Regions from separate parts of the Homo sapiens genome. Here region 1 is linked to region 2. Evidence: fine-mapped expression QTL. A gene starts in region 2. The other region holds a variant in brackets. All regions are shown on one strand. Distances are from middle to middle.

What was found. PIP is the estimated chance that this variant, and not a neighbour inherited with it, causes the effect. A credible set is the group of variants that fine-mapping cannot tell apart.
Region 1: its variant is the best candidate, but not a certain one, in a credible set for the expression of KIAA0232 in whole blood (TOPMed, PIP 0.76).

The regions. Positions count from the first base shown.
Region 1 is chr4:6,849,226-6,859,474 of GRCh38, reverse strand. KIAA0232 reads right to left here. Exons shown (of 10, transcript NM_014743.3): 5 at 2,245-2,311; 6 at 969-1,050. Among named protein-coding and RNA genes, the nearest start is that of TBC1D14, 55 kb to the left of the region's middle. The variant A/G (reference allele first, on the strand shown) is at 7,142.
Region 2 is chr4:6,776,834-6,786,377 of GRCh38, reverse strand. It overlaps KIAA0232, which reads right to left and starts at 3,651. Exons shown (of 10, transcript NM_014743.3): 1 at 3,537-3,651. RefSeq lists silencers at 2,562-3,331, 3,392-4,271.

The sequences.
Region 1 (10,249 bases), 73 kb before region 2:
TGAGAATTGTCCACTGACAGCACATCACGGTTTGAACCAGCCCCATTTCAAGTGCTCAGTAGTCACACATGGCTTACAGCTTCTGTGCTGGATAATACAGGTCTATACAAACCAAGGAAATGCTATTTTTTTCTTAGGTTTCAGAGGTTCGAAAGATTAAAATAAAATGTATAATAGGGAAGTCTGTTTATAATGCAGATTATTTTAAGACTATTTACGAACAAAAAAATAAAAGTATCTTTAGGAAGCAGGTTTGGCAGGTCAAGGATTGCCTATGTTCCCTCTGCAGTAAACAGTGGGAACTCAGTGTTCTTGCTTGTGAACATGGATAATCATTTCTTTTCTTTCTTGTTTTTTTTTTTTTTTTTTTTTTTAATAAGACAGAGTCTCGCTCTGTCGTCCAGGCTGGAGTGCAATGGCACAGTCTCAGCTCACTGCAACCTCTGCCTCCCGGGTTCCAGAAATTCTCCTGCCTCGGTCTCCTGAGTAGCTGGGATTACAGGCATGTACCACCATGCTCAACTAATATTTGAGACTGGGTTTCACCATGTTGACCAGGCTGGTCTCAAACTCCTGACCTCAGGTGATCCACCTGCCTTGGCTTCCCAAAGTGCTGGGATTACTGACATGAGCCACTGTGCCCGGCTGATAATCCTAATTTCTCACAGCTGTCTCAAAGGGCTGTTGTGAATATTAAAGGTAATAGTACATACATAGACTTAGCAAATAATAACCTTCTATGTTTCACTCATTTGTTCCACAAATATTGAATATGAACACCAAGGACAGAACCATCTTGTTTCACCTTTGAATTCTCAGTGTCAAGCATATAAGCGCTCGATAAATGTTTCTTACATTATATATAATGAAACTAAACAAGATGACAAACAGAAAACGGAAACCATGTAGCAGTTATTCATCTGATTTTAACAAATGCACACTTTATTACCGAATACAATCTTACATACATTTCCACTTGATCCTTTGCTGGAGGGGATAATTCTGCCTCTGGAGAGGGAGACCCCTCTAACTTTTTGTGAATCTTCTCTTCTGTTATGAAACAAAAATTAAGAAAGATTTGTCTTATATCTAGTTAATAAATGCTAATGTATTTCAAAGTTTCTCAACTAATTTTAACAAGAAATAGAGACTTTGGTGCTTAAAAGGCAAACTCAATACCGATCTTTTTAATAAAAATCTATTTTTTCAGTGTGCCAGAGGGAATTCTCCGATTAAACCACATTAGCATTAGGCCAAGAGGTGAGAGTTGTTCATCTCGTCACTGATACAGTGCTCTAGAGGCACTTAATTAAGAGACTGAAGTCCCCTGTGTACTTATTAATTAGACCAGAAGGACAGAACATCTGTTTAGATTCCAAAACTATTTTCTCACAAAATTCTACACTCATAGACTTTACATTGACTCATCTTGACCAAAACTAATCTGTAAAGAATATTCTTTATTACAATTTGCTCTATTACTTAACATGTAGGTGAGCAAGGGCTATTTCAACTGAAACAGGAAAAAGGGCTATCCCTTAGTTTAGCCTAGGATACTGCCTTAGGTTACAAATCAACTGTGCCCTTAAGAGGCAGGCTCAAGGCTTGGTGGGCAGCAAAATGACCATAAAGAGGGCAAGGAAACAAGGATCCTCACCCTTAATATGAAGGTCTCGTTCTTAGGGATTGCAAACAAGTTAGAAAAAGTATGAGGAGGATTCATATATCGAAATAACTAAATAAGCTTGCCAAGTCTGTGTTTTCAAAAAAGCTGAGTCAAAACAGAAGTCCCTTCCAAACCTGAAGTAATTCATGTCTTAACATCTTAATTTAATGTCGTAATTTAGCAGTCTTAACATCAACAGGCAGATATTAACAGAGGGGCAAGGATGGGGAAAGGAAAGAGACAATATTGTTCCTGATCTCTGAGCTTCAACTTGAAGCCAACAACAATTAAAAAAACCCAAAAAACAGAAAACCATGAAGTGTTTCCTATCTCTGAGGGCACCTGTGGACTAAGTCCCTCCCTTGGTTGCAGGAATCTCTATGAGTGACTGCTGGGTCTGACACAGAAGCCACTAACAGAGCTGCAGATGGAGCATGAGGCTGGCCTAGTGACACACACTGGACACAAAGACTTTGTTCTGGTTGTTTTCTTTTCTGATCAATTCTAAGATTTTCCCCAATCCAGATTCCTCAGGGATGTAATCCTGGCATGTGTGCGCACAGTGCTTTTGACCTCACCTTGCTTACTCTGAAGGTCTTTCAGTCTGGAGCAGAGCTCCTCCACTAAAGTCTCGATACCAGAGCTCTGCATGACAACAAAAAGACACATTAGGTTACAGCCAGGTATGTACAAATCAGGTATTTGTATACTTTTGTTTTAATACACAGGTTTTACAAATCATCCACATTCCAAAATAAATATCTTACCAATATTTACGTGAATACTACAGTTTAAAAATTATAGGTTTGTAGATACAAATTGGTATACATGCTTATTACTAATAAGGCATATTAAATGAAACTTAGTGATAAAATGTGAACATATTCATGTACCTCCCAGAATAGCTTCTGTTTTTCCAAAGGTGTGTCATCTTGCTCATGGGGCAGATTTAAGGGCCTAAATGTCCATCATACGACCAAAAGTCAGTCACCATCAAAAAGAGTATTAAATATTTATGTGAGCGAGATCTTATACCAGACTTAAAACAAAGGAAAATCACAAAACCTCATCTTAGTTCTCTAGGAGCTCACACCCTGAAGAAAACAAGGTGATTTTTTTTTTTTCTGTTTTAAAGAAACATGAACACTCATGATTAAAACAACAGAAGTCCAGAAAATGAAGCCAATATTGCAAATGTGAAAGCTTTGTCTTCTTTTCAGCATCTGGACCAGATTATCGACTTCTATACAAAGCTTGGGAGTTTAAAATTTAAGGAGAGTACATAGAAGAGTCTGGATTTGGGAGGGTAAAAATAAGAGTCAACCTTTAAAGAAAAATGAATGTAGAAAACAGGCACAAGCAAATAATCTTTCATTAGTAGACTTTAACTTTTAAGAGTCTCAATTTCTCACAGGAAGAAAAAAAAATTTTTTTACAGTGGACAAAAAAAGTCAATGTATTTCTCAGAAACTTTAGATTTATTCAGTGACCAAAGTCCTATTTAAACTGGAATCAAGTCCTTATTGGTGGGCATAACCCAAACAGATGCGCGTGATGGAGAGTTCTGCTAAGCCAGTGCCCTCACTAGGCCTTGACGGGCTAAAAATAGAACTTTACCCCATTCACTTAACTCAAAATGACTCAGCACAAATATTATAGATATCCTACATAAGAAATCCCACGGTTACACAGTTTGAGTAGCAAGAAACAGATTACAATGAAAACAGTTAATTGTAAACATCTAGAGTTACATTCTGTCCACGTCATACCACAGGTTTTAATAGGAAGATAGAAAAATAGGCCAGACAAGAGTTGCCCTTTCCTTTAAAAACACTCTTAAAAACGATGGCAGATATTAGTCATAAACACTGTTCAACCACAAACAGTTGCACCAGAAAGCACCTGCTTACCATAATGCTCAAGGTGTGACAAGGACGGCAATTATATTCCATTTCCTTCGGATCGTGAAACCAACACCAGTGTCAGCTGACACACTGCATACTGTTCTGTACAGCAAGCCTATGTCACTAGGTTTCTAAACCTAGGGCTAGTCTCGCAATGCAGAACACTGAACCTCTAGGGATCACTTATTAAACGTCTTCCAATACTCTAAAATGGGGTCCCATTTAATCAGAATGGTCATTACAACCTAGTGACTACGTATTTTTTCATGCTTTGTCTTAGAAATTAATTACATATACACACATATATTTATTAATATATGAGTAAATATGTATACTATATGAGTGATATATATATATTTGCTGTCATATATAAACATATATTTTTTTTGCTCTCATGTTTAAACAGCAAAATAAGAGCTTACTCCTTACTCTCTGTGTAAAAGCAAGCTCTACCAACCAGGTTTTTCTGTTCTTTTCTTGACTACCTGTAGCATCTTATATATTTTTTTAAAAAATCAGCTGGGCGCAGCGGCTCACACCTGTAATCCCAGCACTTTGGGAGGCCAAGGTGGGTGGATCACTTGAGGTCAGGAGTTCAAGACTAGCCTGGCGAACATGGTGAAACCCCGTTTCTACTAAAAATACAAAAAAAATTAGCTGGGCGTGGTGGCAGGCACCTGTAATCTTAGCTACTTGGGAGGCTGAGGCAGGAGAACTGCTTGAACCCAGGAGGTGGAGGTTGCAGTGAGCTGAGATCGCGTCATTGCACTCCAGCCTGGGCAACAGAGCGAGACTCGGTCTCAAAAAAATAAAAAAAAATAAAAAATAAAAAATAAAAAATCATGAGAACCCTGGGTCACCATCACAGCAAGCTGGGAAGCATAGAGGCACAGCAGAAGCTGTCATCACCCTTTGTTGTCTCCTGGCAGGTGTTCCAAAGTGTTAATTTACAGTTTTAATGAGAAATTTTTATTCACTTTCCCAATTATATAAACCATTAGAAAATATTAATAATCAAATTTCAGTAGCATAGCATATCCATAAGGCCATTCAATAATATTTTGAGAGCCTATAGTATCTTAAAAAACAAAGAAAGATTAAGTTATATCTTAATAACAACTCTAAGGAAGCACAAGCTATAGGTGAAAAAAATGCTACCATTCCACCACTGAACTCATGAATTGCTTTTCCTAACTGTAAAATGGATAATATCCACCCATCTTCCAGTATCCAACACATGTAAAACACTCTGCAAACCGTTAAGAGCACTCTAAAATTCAAATTACAGTACTCCAAACCTGCAAAGTGGCGAGCCACATACAGACGCTGGCAAGTTTCAGGACACGCTCAGTGAGCAACCCTCAGAATGCATGGACAGCCAGCCACTAGTTTACCATGCACTGGCTCATTCACGCACCCAGTGAACAAATGGTTATGACGACCCCTGTCCTCCTGAGATTTACATGATAATCACTCTAATTTCTCTGAGAAGAGGACTCAGTGGAATGTATTTGGGTTTGGGGCTTGGAGTCATGCTGGCCTGGGTCTGAATTCTTGCCCTGCTACATTCACTGGGCAGCAAAGGGCATGTGTGCCACTTCCTCTTTCTGGACCCAAGAATGCCACCACTTCCCTCCCAAGATTCAGTAAAAAAAAGCTAACATGACACATGTGAGGCATCCAGAGTCCCTGTCACCTTAGTCACTTAAATGTTGGTGTCATTTCTAGATTTTGTACGTCTTTAATTTTCTACAATCTTGTTTTTTGATTCATCACTTCAAAAATGTCTTTAATTTTTGCTATGATTTGATTTTGAGGTTGGAGGAGTAAAAAGATAATTAACCTAATGCATACCACCAAAACCCCTCTGGATTCTCCCTGGACTTCATGGCCTGCTCCTTCTCTCTCTGACCAACGCTAGGTTCTTGCTACTGCTACACTCTCTGCTCCTGGCTGTGGGGTGGGGTTGAAGAGTTAAATGATGATGGAGACTGAGCCTTGGTCAAACACAGCAACTGGTGTCCTATTACTTCATGAGGGTCTTATTTGTTCCCTGACAAATTCCTATCACTTCCCATCCCTACAACATTTCCAGTATTTCTCCATCTTCTCCATACTTCCCATCCTTCTCAACTTGGACCTTAGTTATTAAGCGTAAAGTAAAAGAAAGGCAATTTGACTTATTCTGCCTCATCTCTCCTCTCCATACTCAAAGGTTTCTGTGCCATATTAATCATCTTACAGGTTTCTCTTTTATGGAGGGTTCATTTAGACTGGATATTCCCTAAATGCTGGACAGGTGCCGCCATAGTGTGATCACTAACCTACATGATACTCAGTGTTAACTGCCTGTTCCATTTGCACATGGCTCAATGGAGTCAAAGAGATCTGGTTCTAAATTTCACCCCAGGGTTAACCACATGACCCTACATAAATCATTTACCTATCAAAGCCTCAGTTTCTACATCTGGAAAAGGGTGCTAGTATTATGGACACATTTCCTAATAGCTGGTTACTGAATTTCCTGTACTGGTCCCCTAATTTCTTTTGTCACCTGTTTACCATTTCTTCATCTTTTTGTTCTACTTTCTGGAAGATTTCCAGAGCTGCCTTCCAAACCGTCTATTGAGTTTTTCATTTCTATTATCATGGTTATAATTTTTAAAGGATCATCTCATCCCTCAAATGTTTCTTCTTTCCAGCAACCTCTTCCTCGTTAAGAAATCTTCCACACTTCTATCTTTGGAAGATAAACCTATTTGTCAGTCAGGCACCAGAAAGGGATGGGGGAATCAGTCAGTCCCCAATTTTCATTATGGTGTCTCATGCTTTGCCTCAGGGGTGCCTAGTATCCCAAAGTCCAGAAGCTGTCTACTTAATCTCTCCAGAAAGTAACTGTCAGAGGAAAGGCTGTTACTCTGGGGCCCCCAATGAACTGTGCCTCCCTGCACTTGCCCCTAGGTTGGGCCCCTCCCACAGTGACTGGGTTTCACAATAAGATGTTGCCGAGTGTGACAGATGCCCTCCTGGAATGCTACCTTCTGAGTGTTCTCCATCTGCCATGTGGTGAAAGGTCACAGCTCCCAGCCATGCTTGCTGAAGCACCAGTCACATGAGGAAAGCAATCCTGGATGTTTCAGCTCCACCTGCCATCACAGACCCCAAGCAAGAACAGCAGAAGAACCTCCCAGCTGAGCCCTAGCTAACTCACAGAATTGTGGGTAAATAGTTGTTTCAAGCCACTAAGTTTTGGGGTACTTAGTCATGTAGCAATAACTGAAGCACAGGCTTTCAAACACTCCTATTTTCAGCCCAGCCCTGCACATGGAGCTCTTTTACAGTTTTTCAGATCTTAGTCTTTAGCTTTAAAGCAGAGTTGGAAGATTAGTGGTAGGAAACCCAACTAGATACTGATAGAATGACTACTGGTGATCATGGTAATCGTTTCACTGGAAAGCAAAGGATCAATTCCATACTTTAATGACTGGAAGTTTTAAAAACCTTTTTAAAATTTAGAATTAAATTAATGTTAAGCAAATAAGCAAAAGAGCACCAACTGAGAAGACTGAGA[A/G]TATGTGCCAGGGGTCACAAACTCATGCCTTCAATAGCCAGAGAAGCAATACAAAGTGAAAAAAAACTCCTCTAAATAAAAAGCTGTTTCTGCCAAGGCCCCTGTATGAGAGCTGTGATTCCTATCCTTGAACACGGAATGGTCTAAAAAAATTGGCCTGTCTCCAGCTCTCATGCACATTTGCTCTCTAGAAAATGATACAGAGTAGGAGAGAAGTATCCAATGGATAAATATCTTCAAACATGATCTAGGGCACAGATTATATACTCTTTAGAATGCTGAAAAAAAAAGAAGGTTAAAGTTTTCAACAAAAAATAGAGGATATCAAACTGTTATAATAATTAAATAATATGACCAATCGAGGCTTAGAAAAAGGTAACCCCGCTCTTTAGCAGGGTGATGTAACATAAAGGGAACATGATCTGGACTTACGAGACCTGCTGTGCTGTGTGAAGCTGGACAAGTTATTTAACTTCTGAGCCTCCATTTCATCATTTTACAAAAAGAGGAAAATACTTCAACTTGAATTAAGTCCTTCAATTTTCTTAGTTCATTATAGCACCTTACTGATTTAGGCAAACCCCTCCCCGCTTTTTTTTTTTTTTTTTTTTAATTTTTGAGATAGGATCTTGCTCTGTCACCCAGGCTGGAGTGCAGTGGTATGATCACAGCTCACCATATCCTTGACCTCCAGGACTCACGTGTTGCTCCCACCTTCTCAGCCTCCCAAGTAGCTGGGGACTCAGGCGTGTGCCACCACACTTGGCTTTTCTTTTGTTTTTTTTTCAGAGATGTGGTTTCTGCAAAACCCCATCTCAAACTGGTTTCAAACTGCCAGGCTCAAGCAACCCACCCGCCTCAGCTTCTCAAAGTGCTGGGATTACAGGCATGAGCCATCGCACCCAGGCAAACCCTATTTTTTATGATATGCAAAAAAGTCCTGTTTCTTACTTTCATATGGAGATGGCAGTTTCTTTTCCCTTTAGATATCTAACAAGTAAACTTCCTGAAGGATATTTGGCTACAGAAGCTCAGAAAGCTATGAGCTGAATGTCTGGATACTACTTGTTTCACTTCATGGTTCAATTAAGAAGAATAGTCACAACTTAGACCAGTTATTTTTAATCTAGGAAGGATGAACTCTTAAGGAGGCCACTAATGGGCATGTAACAAAGTAATTCATATAAGAAAAGTTTAAGTATAACATTCTGGTTAGGGCCATAGCTTTCATCAAATACTCCAGTCTATAAGGCTGACAGTTACAAAAAAACACTGACTTCAGTCAAGGAATCTGATGCCTAAGTATACATGCAAGAAAAAGTACTGTACATACGCACAAGGATAAGCAGGTAAGAATGTTCCTTTCGGCCGAGCATGGTGGCTCACGCCTGTAATCTCAGCACTTTGGGAGGCCGAGGTGGGCGGATCACGAGGTCAAGAGATCGAGACCATCCTGGCCAACATGGTGAAATCCCGTCTCTACTAAGAATACAAAAATTAGCTGGGCGTGGTGGCATGTGCCTGTAGTCCCAGCTACTCGGGAGGCTGAGGCAGAGAATCGCTTGAACCCAGGAGGCAGAGGCTGCAGTGAGCTGACTGAGATAACGCCACTGCACTCCAGCCTGGCACAGAGCGAGACTCCGTCTAAAAAAAAAAAAAAAGAATGTTCCTTTCTACTTTCTTTATTAATAGCCCAAAATGAGAAGCAATTGAAAGGCCCATTACCAGGAGAATAAACAGTGTTACATAGTTCACAATGGAGAACTACTTAGGAACGAAGAATGAAGACATTATAAGATCATGTTAACAATATAGAAAAAATTTTAAAATTTTTAACTAAAAGAAGTTACAAAAATATATAGAGTATGGTATAATTTATAGAAAGTTTAAGAAAATGCAAAATCATGCTGTATTTGTGTACACCTTCAAACAGTATTTAGTAAACATACGAAAATAAGCATGGGAAAGACAAACACCAAGCGGGGTATGATGGTGACCTGAGAGGGATGACCAGGAAAGTCATTAGGAAAGCGTACATGGGTCTCCAGCTGTGCCCCCAACACCTGGCTTCTTCAACTTCAGTGGGCACACAGGGATTCACTGGGCCATCATTTGGCCCTTTCTGGTCCTCAAACTCTTAATCTGTTTTCATACCCCAGCCCCTAACCCCACGCATGTCTATTTTATAGTGCCTCACTCTCAGATTTTTACAGCAGCCCCTTCCACTTCTGTGTCTGCTCTCATATTCTCACTTTTCAACATTTGAAAGATCAGAAAACTTCCTGTTAAAAAATCCCAATTTTCTACCTTTTCTAAAAAGAGATCAGAAGATCTGGGCTAGATTAACAAAAAGAAAATGGGCTATTTCTTGCCTGGTCCTCATAAACCACTCTACCCCACCAACCCTAGACATGCATATTCAGTTTATTCAGCTGCCTGTTCAAAAATCTCCATTTAGCTGTCTCCTAGGAGGCATCTCATATGTTAATCCTTATTCATACCACAAAGATGTTCCTTCCTTAGGTTCCTTTTCCTTAGTAAATAGAAATTACTTTTTTTTTTTTTTGGAGACCGAGTCTCGCTCTGTCACCTGGGCTGGAGTGCAGTGGCGTGATCTTGGCTCCACCGCCTGGTTCAAGCAATTTTCCCACCTCAGCCTCCTGAGTAGCTGGGACTACAGGCATGCACCACCACATCCGGCTAATTTTTTCTTTGTTTGAGATGGAGTCTTGCTCTGTTGCCCAGGCTGCAGTGCAGTGGCACGATCTCAGCTCACGGGAACCTCTGCCTCCTGGGTTCAAGTGATTCTCCTGTCTCAGCCTCCCAGGTAGCTGGGATTATGGGTGGGCGCCACCACGTCCGGTTAATTTTTATATTTTTAGTAGAGACAGGTTTTTGCCATGTTGGCGAGGCTGATCTCAAACTCCTGACGTCAAGTGACCTGCCTGCCTCCCAAAGTGCTGGGATTACAGGCATGAGCCACTGTGCCGGGCCAGGAATTATATTCTTGCAGTTGCTCAGATCAAAACCCTTGGCTGTCTTCCTTGTCTCCTCCCCTTATCTCTACCCCACATCTAATCCTGACAGTTCCATCTTCGAAAACAGATG
Region 2 (9,544 bases):
TGAGCCACGATCACACCACCGCACTCCAAGCCTGGGTGACAAAGCAAGATGCTGTCTCAAAAACAAACAAACTTTATTTGCAGACTTAAGCCAGGGTCAGAAAAAATAAAAATAAATATACTTTATAATATTAACATACTCTTTAAGGTTGATTACAGACTTTGACTTTATTTAGCAAACATTTAAACACTTACATTTAACATTAAGCACTTATGTTTAAACGCCTGAGCAAGGTGTTGGGGGCAAAATGATAGGATAGACACCACAGCCAGAGTTTACTATGACCAATTTATAATACAACATGATATAGACAATAATGAAGGAAAAATAGAGAACTATGATTGAGGAAAGGAATAATTCATTGTAATAGGACTTCCAAAGGACTCCAGAGAGAACAGAATATTTGATATGAACTTTTAAGAACTGGAGGGAGTGGGAGTGAGACAGGACATTCCAATAAGAGAAAAGAATATAAGCAAAGAAGGTCTGAAATAGCTTGGCATGTTCAGAGAACCAAGAGCAGTCTTGTTTAGCTGGACAGTGTGGAAAGGGGACAAAGAGGACAAGATAAAGTACAGAGATGACTGGGGGCCAGACTGCAAGGGGCCTGCATTGTGATGCTGGTATCTCTGAATTCTAAGCTCCAAACCACAGGCAGTCTTAGAAGCCTACTGAGCCAGAGACTGACAAGATCTGAGCTCAGGAAAGATGACTCTGGCAGCCAGGCAAAGAATGGATAGGAAGGGGTGGCGAGGAGCCTGAAGACAAAGTTAAAAACTTTAAGCAAAGCAAGTAATCTGAGGTTTTAACACTTACACTAGGCGAGTATTTTTAAAGGGTTTGAGTCTTGACGACATTTCACGTCTTCCCTCAAGTGATCATCCCAACTATTCTGTGAAACAGGTGTCATCAATCTTCCCATTCTACAGATGAGGAAATTAGCTCACAAGCCATTAACTGCCAAGTCAAATGCTACAAAAACAAGGACAAAGCGCAGGCTCAGCACTTTTCCACACAATGAAAAATAAAGAACAAGAACAATCTAATTTCTTTTGAAGAGTGCTACCGTACAACATAGCACAGAGTAGGCTAGCTACATTACCCTATATTACCACTGGAAGTGTTAAAAATCCATCTAATCAGCCAGGCGCGGTGGCTCACGCCTGTAATCCCAGCACTTTGGGAGGCTGAGGCAGGCGGATCACGAGGTCAGGAGAGAAAGACCATCCTGGCTAACACGGTGAAGCCCCATCTCTACTAAAAATGCAAAAAATTAGCCGGGGGTGGTGGCATGCACCTGTAGTCCCAGCTACTCGGGAGGTTGAGGCAGGAGACTCGCTTGTACCCGGCGGGCGGAGGTTGCAGTGAGTGAGCCGAGATCGCGGACTCCAGCCTGGGCGGCAGAGCGAGACTCCGTCTCAAAAAAAAAAAAAAAAAAAATTCATCTGATCTTCTTAAATGTTTGCAACTTGCATAACAAGCTAATTATCCTTAGATTTGACTTCTGTTAACGTCATGTTAAAGACCTATACTTTTTCTCCAAAGCAAACAAAAAAGCACCTGCACTTTGAATTCTACTTCCTATGGAAATAAATAAGAATAATATTCTCCCTTCCCTTCAATGTTTAAAAACTGGCATTTCACTGATGTAACGGGCTTACATAAAAACCATTATACCCAAGGAAGCTGTAAACCACTTTTTGAATGATTAAAAATGCATTATTTAGCAAGTACAGCAATTGAATCTGAGTTATAAGATATATTAAGTGAAAGGAGCTTCTATAGATATGCAAAGGCACACTCTCGGAAATAGGTTCTGTCATAAGGAAGCGACATAGAGATCCTGAGACCTATTTAAGAATGGTTCAATCCAAAATAACTGATGGAAGAATATTTGACCTTGAGGATGCAGAGTGATAGAATCCGCTCCTCCTCCCCCCCCGCCCTCACCCGCCTTTAAATTCTAAGTCCACGAAATGGTCAAAGTGTTCTGGAACGGGTCTTATTTTGCATAGGAAGAATCTAGCTTGGGCATTTTACCGCACAGTTTTATCCACAGCATCGCCTATTACCAAAACTGCTTGTCCCTACCCCCTCACGAGCTTTCTAACAGTTTTTAAAACAAGACCCAGAAATGTAAAATCCCTTCTTAGGAACTTGAACAGTAAGTCAAAGTATCCAACCCAGGTAATTATTAGCAAGAACTACATTTATATAATTTTTTCCAAAGAATCTCGCATGCCTCCTCTCCGCTGAATCTCCCTCCTGTTTTTAACTGGGTTAAATCTTTATAGCTTGCCTATAGAGGACAAAAACGGAAAGGTGGCAAAAAAGAAATCAAGACAGTTCTGCCATGATTTAGGGGTCTGTACCAAGAGTTCGGCAGGTCCTGTCACCTGCGCACCACAAGACGCAAGCTGAATTCTAGGGCAAGACGAAGCATTCCAACACGACACACACTGGTTTCTCCAGCGGGAAGAAGCAGAGAGCTCTAGAAATGCCGGCTGCAGACGCGTATTGTTGGAAAGGAGCCGGATCAGGCCCCGCAGCAACTCGGGGCGCCCTCGCGACAGGGTTTGCCGCGCAGCGCACGGATGACTGTGGGCCTGTCACTCCTAGCTCCAGCTGTAACCTTCGCCAAACCTTGCGCCGCACCGGCCCCGCCCGCCAGGCCCGCCCCCCGCGCCGCGCCCCGCGCCATAGGCCGGCGCGCCAGTCGCTCAGCCGGCCTCCCGGCCCCGCCCGCCTGCGGCCCTCCTCCCCCGCCCGGCGGTTTTCCCTTCCCGGGGCCCCAAAAGGACAATGCTGGAGGGGAGGGGAACGGAGGGAACGCGAGCGAGCGGCCCAGGCTGCCGGCCTGACCCCGCTGCCGGGGACGCCGGGCGCCTCCCACCGGCCGAAGCCTTCCTCCCGCGCCCACTTTCGGGGCTCTACGTCCTATCAAGTCTAAGCACCCCCGCCTCGTCTCCCCTAGAAGAGCCGCCCCGGCGCGGCGACACCTGCCCCAGGCAGGAGGCAGCCAACGGCAACCCATTGTGCGGACTCATCGTCCACAGCCCACCCGGGCGCAAGAGCCGCAAGCTGGTGTCCCGGCGTCCTGGGGTCGGGGCGGGGGTCCCAGGGCCCACAGCTCACCCGCACGCCCGGGCACCACCAGGATCGGGGCCGGTCAGGCCTCCCTCGGCTGGCCCCGGAGCCATCAACAGCGGCCCGGTCTCCCTTAGGCTGGCCCCGGAGCCATCAGCGGCGGCCCGGCCTCCCTCAGGCTGGCCCCGGAGCCCCCGGCGGCGGCCCGGTCTCCCTCAGGCTGGCCCCGGAGCCCTCGGCGGCGGCTCGGCCTCCCTTAGGCTGGCCCCAGAGCCCACGGCGGCGGCCCTGTCTCCCTTGGGCTGACCCCGAAGCCTTCGGCTGCGGCCCGGCCTCCCTCGGGCTGGCCCCGGAGCCCCACGGCGGCGAGCGTCCGGCCTCCCCGGCCCGCGCCCACCCGGCCGAGGGGCTGCTCCGCGCCCTCCCTCCCCGCCGCCTGCCCGCAGTACCTGCCGAGGCTGCCGGGCGGCGCGGCGGCCGGCGGGGGCGCCTCTCCTCTGGCTCCGAGGGGCTGCGGGCGGCTGCCGAGCGCCGGGCGGCCCTGGCCTGCGCCTTACGTAAAGCGGCGGCGGCGGCCCCAGCGCCACTCCGCGGAGGGCGGGAGGCGGCGCGCCGGGAGCCGCTCCGCTCCGTTACCCGGCAACTGGCCTCAGCGCCCCGCCAACCAGGGGCGCGCTCCATATCCTTCCGCCCGGGTGCCGGGATTACATCAGCGCCGGCCGGTCCCCGCCCCTGCCCCTCCCTCCGGCTGGGCTGCGGGCGCGCGCGGGCGGTGGGCCGCGGGCTGACGGCGCGAGGGGACAGGCCGGGGCTGGTGCCTGGCGGGTGGGGGTCTAGGGCCCGGGACGCGCCGTGCAGCTTGGCCGGGGCGGCGGAAGCCGCTGGGAGGTGAGAGGGCAAGCAGTAGAGAGGGCAGGCAGGAAGCGGGAGCCCCCCAGCGTGCTGGGCGTCGGAGAGGAGACGTCTCCCGCGGAGGGGCACGTGGGACTGCCCTCGGCAGAAGCCCCCGAACTCTGCCGCCGCGCCCCGCCCCCGGCCCGCGCTGGGGAAGTGGGGCTCGGCGTGCACGGCCCCGCCCGCGGCCCGGTGCAGCCCCCGCCTTCCCGGGCTCGCGCGCCACCTGTCCGCGCCCCCTCCTCGCCGCGTCCTGGGATGGCTGGAGTAGGCGGCTTAAAATAAAGACTTTAATTTTTTGTTGTTGTTGTTAAGGAACCCAGAAGACAAGCTAAAGAAATGTGACATGGCTCTTTTTTTATTAACTAGGCAAAAATAAATTCTGGAAGCTTCGAAAGTGGAAACCAAAAATGTGCATTAACCTTTTAATCAAAGTGTCTTCACAGCCACCTACCTTCCCTAAATGTGACTCCTAGGCCTGTTCTAAAAAAGCAAATAAGTATCATGGACCTGGAAAAGGAAGGGAGATTACTTAGAAGAAAGAGGTCCAATGGGAGGAGTGACTTACCTGGGGTCATTTGTTCATTTATGCAGCACCCACTAGGTGCCAGGCACTATGCTTTTCTGTTCAGAACCTGTTGGAGAATTTCCTGCACCAGCTCACGGGCTTGTGGGAGAAGCAGATGCTGAAACACTGGAGAGGGGTCATCTGCTGAGTTGGCTAGATGCTCCATGCATCCATGGAAGGACAAACCGAGGAACTGTCGCTTACGTACTATCTACAGAGTGTTTTTTCTGCGAACATATCTTTTTGTTCTTTACAAAAATCGTGGGACAAATCTTTGTCATCCGCATTTAACTGGTGAGGAAGCTGAGGCTGAAAGAAAGTGATTTCACCCAAGCCTGGCTGCTACCGAGTGGACAGGGCCTTCTGACCTTGCTAAACCACCTCTTGCAGGAGACAGAATGTGAACCCAGGCTCCTGGCTCTGAAATATGGGGTTTCGTTTCCTTTACACTACTGTCTCCCTTAACCAGTTTGCTTCTAATTGTATTCTCTGAGCATTCGCTCAGGTGAATGTATATCGTCATAAATCACACGTTCATTCAGTCAGTTTCTTCTGAGTGCTTGTTGTGGACCTGGCTCAGTGCCGGGAACGCACAGTCCCTGTGCTCCTGGAACTCAAACTCTAAAAACAGTGTCGAGAATGGAAAGGGTATGGGAAATCCAGGGCCACTTGGGAGTAGAGGAGGGGAGAGTAGCAGAGCTTCAGAGCCTAGTTCACAGGTGCCTCCAGGCTCCAGGATTTCACAGACCAAAGTATGGGGGATTTGCAAAGGATGGTCAGCTTTTGATTTTTGCTACATTGGTGACATATCTGTCATCTACATCATATTTTACAAAAGAGTATTAACAGCAAAATTTTTTGAAAAGTAATAACAGTATATCTCAGTTCTGAAGAAAGGAAACACGGTTGGCACCTGTATAGTGACACACACACACACACACACACACACAGAGTTTATTGACCTTTTTTTTTATTACTTTGCCACAGACCAGTTTTTATACTAGTTCTACCATGAACTAGTAGAACCTGAAGACTTCTTGGAAGAAGAGGTTTTTAAGTAGGAATTATCTTGTATTAATAGGATTTGGAGCTGGTGGGGAAAGATGACAGATTAGGGAAAGAAAGTGTCTTGTTTACTTTGTTTTCTTAACAAAATAGCCTCCTGTCCTCCAAATTATTTTGATAAAAATCCTAGGAGTCTCAGCTGACTCCAACCTTAGGGCCTTTGCATCTGCTGATTTCTGTGAGGAACTCCCTCCCCAGACCTCTGCGTGGCTGGTTCCTTCTTGTTAAAGGCCCTGCTACGATGTCACCTGCCCAGAGACATCTAGATGCCCAGTTTGGAGTAGCCAACCTTCCCAGTCATGATGCCACTGCTATATTTTGTTTCTTTATTCACAGCTCTTATCAGTATCTGAGATCATCTCGTTTGTATGTTTGTTTCCTCATTCATCTCAGCCTCCTCACTCAAGACCTGTATCTCACAAGAGCAGGCATTTTGCCTGTGGTGCTTATTTTCATATGCCCAGAGCCCAGCACGGAGCCTGCCAGTTTGTAGGTGCAGGACTGAACTATCATCTGTGATGTAGTCAGAGTGCACATCAGGGAGAAAACAATCCCACCTTCCCTTGAGCAATCAGGAACAGGGCTCTTCTGCATGAGCCCCTTACCCCCTGTAGTGTGCCACGCTGCCTACGACCTTCCTTCAGGCTCCCGGGTAGAGATCAGCCAACTTAAACTCAGGAGAACAGTAGCTTTCTCCCTCTTGTGGGCTAAGATCCCTAGGGAATGCAAATGAGGCCAGAGGACTCCTGCGTTAAGGCAGGGTTGGTGTGGAGGCGGTAGACTCCCCCTTCAGCATTTTCTGAGAAGAAACCATTGTCTCCTGTGTATGTCTGAGATCATTCATTTCATTTCTCTAGTCTCAGGAGCACCTGCCACAGCTTTTTAACCCCTACAGCCGGGTAAGGCAATGCTGGAGGAAGCTGACGACTCTGAGTGCCCTCTGACTTGGATGTTCGATGCTAGCGAGGATTCTAGCAGCTGCCATCTGGGGCAGTGATTGTGTAATGTGTATGCTTAGTGAACAGCAGGGATGAGGCTGGGTCCGGGATGCTTTGTGATGTCGTGTGGCACACGGACTGACGGCAGGCAGGGGCCAGGCCTCTTCGACTCTGTGATCTTGGGTACATAATCTCCCTCTCTGGGCCTCAGTTTCCCCATCTGCACAACAAGGGACTTGGGCAGGAAGATTTCAAAAATCTCCTTTGTTCTGTGCCTGTGTGTGTGTGTGTGTGTGTGAGAGAGAGAGATTTAGAAACAAAATTTCAATGAAGCTACACTTTGATAAATGATATACAAATCCTCACCTGTCACCTGACACGAGCAATGCCAGCTCCTGTTTACTGACCCCCAGGTGCATGCCAAGTGCTTTGCTCACATTGTCCTTAACTCCCACAATACCAGGCAGGGAAGAGATGATCCCCATTTTGCAGCCACAGAAGCCAAGGCTTCTCTGGAGACTTAGGTGGCTTGCACAGGCCACACTGCTACTAAAAGGCAGCACCAGGATTTCATTTTAGCCCTGTGCTTGCTACTGGGCCACACAGTATCATTAAAATCCATCCTGAGATGACTTTTAAATGAATGAGGCCAAGATAAAACCCTGACCAGATAATCTCCCCATTGCCTCCCCATGGGACCAAGACCCTCACTTGGGATACTAACTAGGCATCTCAGTTCAGATGCTGTCAGTCAAGGTGGCCCACATCATGGCCTTCTCTCTTAACCACCCCAGGCCTGCACCCGCATTCTGACAGCCTCTCCTCTCAGTGGCTCTCCTCTCTTAGGGGTAGTAACATCATTCCAGGCCTAAAGAGAGTTCAAGCCTCTGGCATAGCCCCATGGTCTGACCTTGAGCAAGGCCCTGACCTTCTGAGGGTTTCGGCTTCCTAGTGCAGGAAAAGACAGAGGAATAACGCCTTGTTCCGCTTGCCTATCCCTGTAGGGCCAAACCAGATCAGAGGTGTGGTTGTCTCCTGCTTCCAAATTTGTTCCTCACTTCTATCCCTCCACCCAGTCCATGGAAAATCAACAACGTCATCAGCAATGTCACCAGAAGTAGGGGAGCACGGTGATTAAGCACACTGGCTGATTAGCTCACTGATGTGGGTAAATTACTTAGCCTCTCAGTTTCCTCATCTGTAAAGTGGGCATAATAATAATAGTATCTGCCTCAGAGGGTTGCGGTGAAGGGGTAAGTGAATCCACACAGAGGGTACCCGGCACACAGCAAACACTCAATAAATACCAGCACCCACGACCATCCCTCCTTGAAGCCCCCACTACTTAGCTCTGACTGCCCATCTCCAGGACCCCCTCTTCCTCTGTCCCTCCCATTCCCTCCTTTCTTATCCCTCCTTTCTTATACCTCCTTTCTTATCATTCTGCATACCACTAGGGCAGTCTCCTCCACTCCAGTAGCTGTTAAGTAACATGAAAATGGAAGGACACCTAATATCTCTCCCCTACCCCAGCTTTTCTCCAAGGCCCAGAACCGCCTCCTGGGCTTGTCCGCCTTGCTGGTGGGACCCTCCCCAGCCCCCAGCATGTTCCTGGCTGACTCACTGCCTTTCCACACAGGGGCCCCTTCCCTCATCGCTCTATTTACAGCATCACCCTCTCCCTGGCTGCCTGAGCTAGAGTCCTAGTGCACCGACCTGGTGAATTTGTTTCAGAGATGACCTTGCAGCCAGACTGAGCTCAAACAGACTTGGGTTTGAGTCCAGCGCAGCCATGTGGCACAGTGAAACCTTGAACAAGTTACTTCCTCTCTCCGAGCTGGCTCGCATCTCTCTAAAATGCACACAATGGGCGGACCCTCCAGCAGTGAACACTCATCTTTTGATCCATCTGCCAGTATATGAAGCCCCTTCTTATGTTTGGTGAATCCCTGTCCCTTTTGGGATTCACCCAAGCAAAGAAGGCTTCCCTACACGGAGCCTGAAGGCCAGACCCTGACCCGACCTCCCTCCTGGCTTCCGACTTACTGTCATCATTATAACCACACAAACCGTTCCCGGGGCTGCTTCTGCATTGCCCAGAAGTACCCTGCATCTGGACAATTAGCATGTGAAGGAATTGGAAATGATTATTTAGTTATAGGTGTGAGCCACTGCACCCAGCCGGGAACGATTTTGTCAAATTTAATCAATATATGGACGTATGTTTTGGCGGCCAACATTCAACCCACTATACTTAAACATCTTCTGTGGTAATAAAATAGCACAACACCCACCCCTCTGTGTCAACTGACTCACTCCTTCCTTCCTTCCTCCCTCCCTCCCTCCCTCCTTCCTTCCTTCCTTCTTGCTTTTTTTCTTATGCTCTCTCTCTTTCTTTGACAGGGTCTGTGTCGCCCACATTGGAGTGCAGTGGTACAATCATAGTTCACTGAAGCCTTGTAGTCCTGGGTTCGAGTAATCTTCCTGCCTCAGCCTCCAGAGTAGCTGGGACTATAAGTGTGCCACCACACCCAGCTGATTTTTAAAAATTCTTTTAGAGAAGACGGTGGGGGGGTCAGAGGCACCGGGGATGTGGTCTCCCTCTGTTGCCCAGGCTGGTGTTGAACTCCTGGCCTCAAGCAGTCCTCTCACTTTGGCCTCCCAAGGTGCTGGAATTGCTGGCATGCACCACCATGCCCACCTGATTTTTTTCTTCTTAGCGCTAATCAACACGTGCTGCGTCATATACGTATTTACCTATGGCTTTGCTCCCCCTTTAACTGTAAGTTCCAGGAAGACAGGCAGGGCTCTGTCTACTTGTTCACTGCTGCCTCCTCAGCTCCTAGAACGGGGCGTCACACACAGCAGGTGCTCAAAATTCATATATATTGAATGCATAAATAAAGATCAGACAGTGCTGAAGATTTACAGCCCTATTTGGGTCATTCCTAAAACACAGGATTGCCAGTAACAGCCAATGATGCTACAGTGT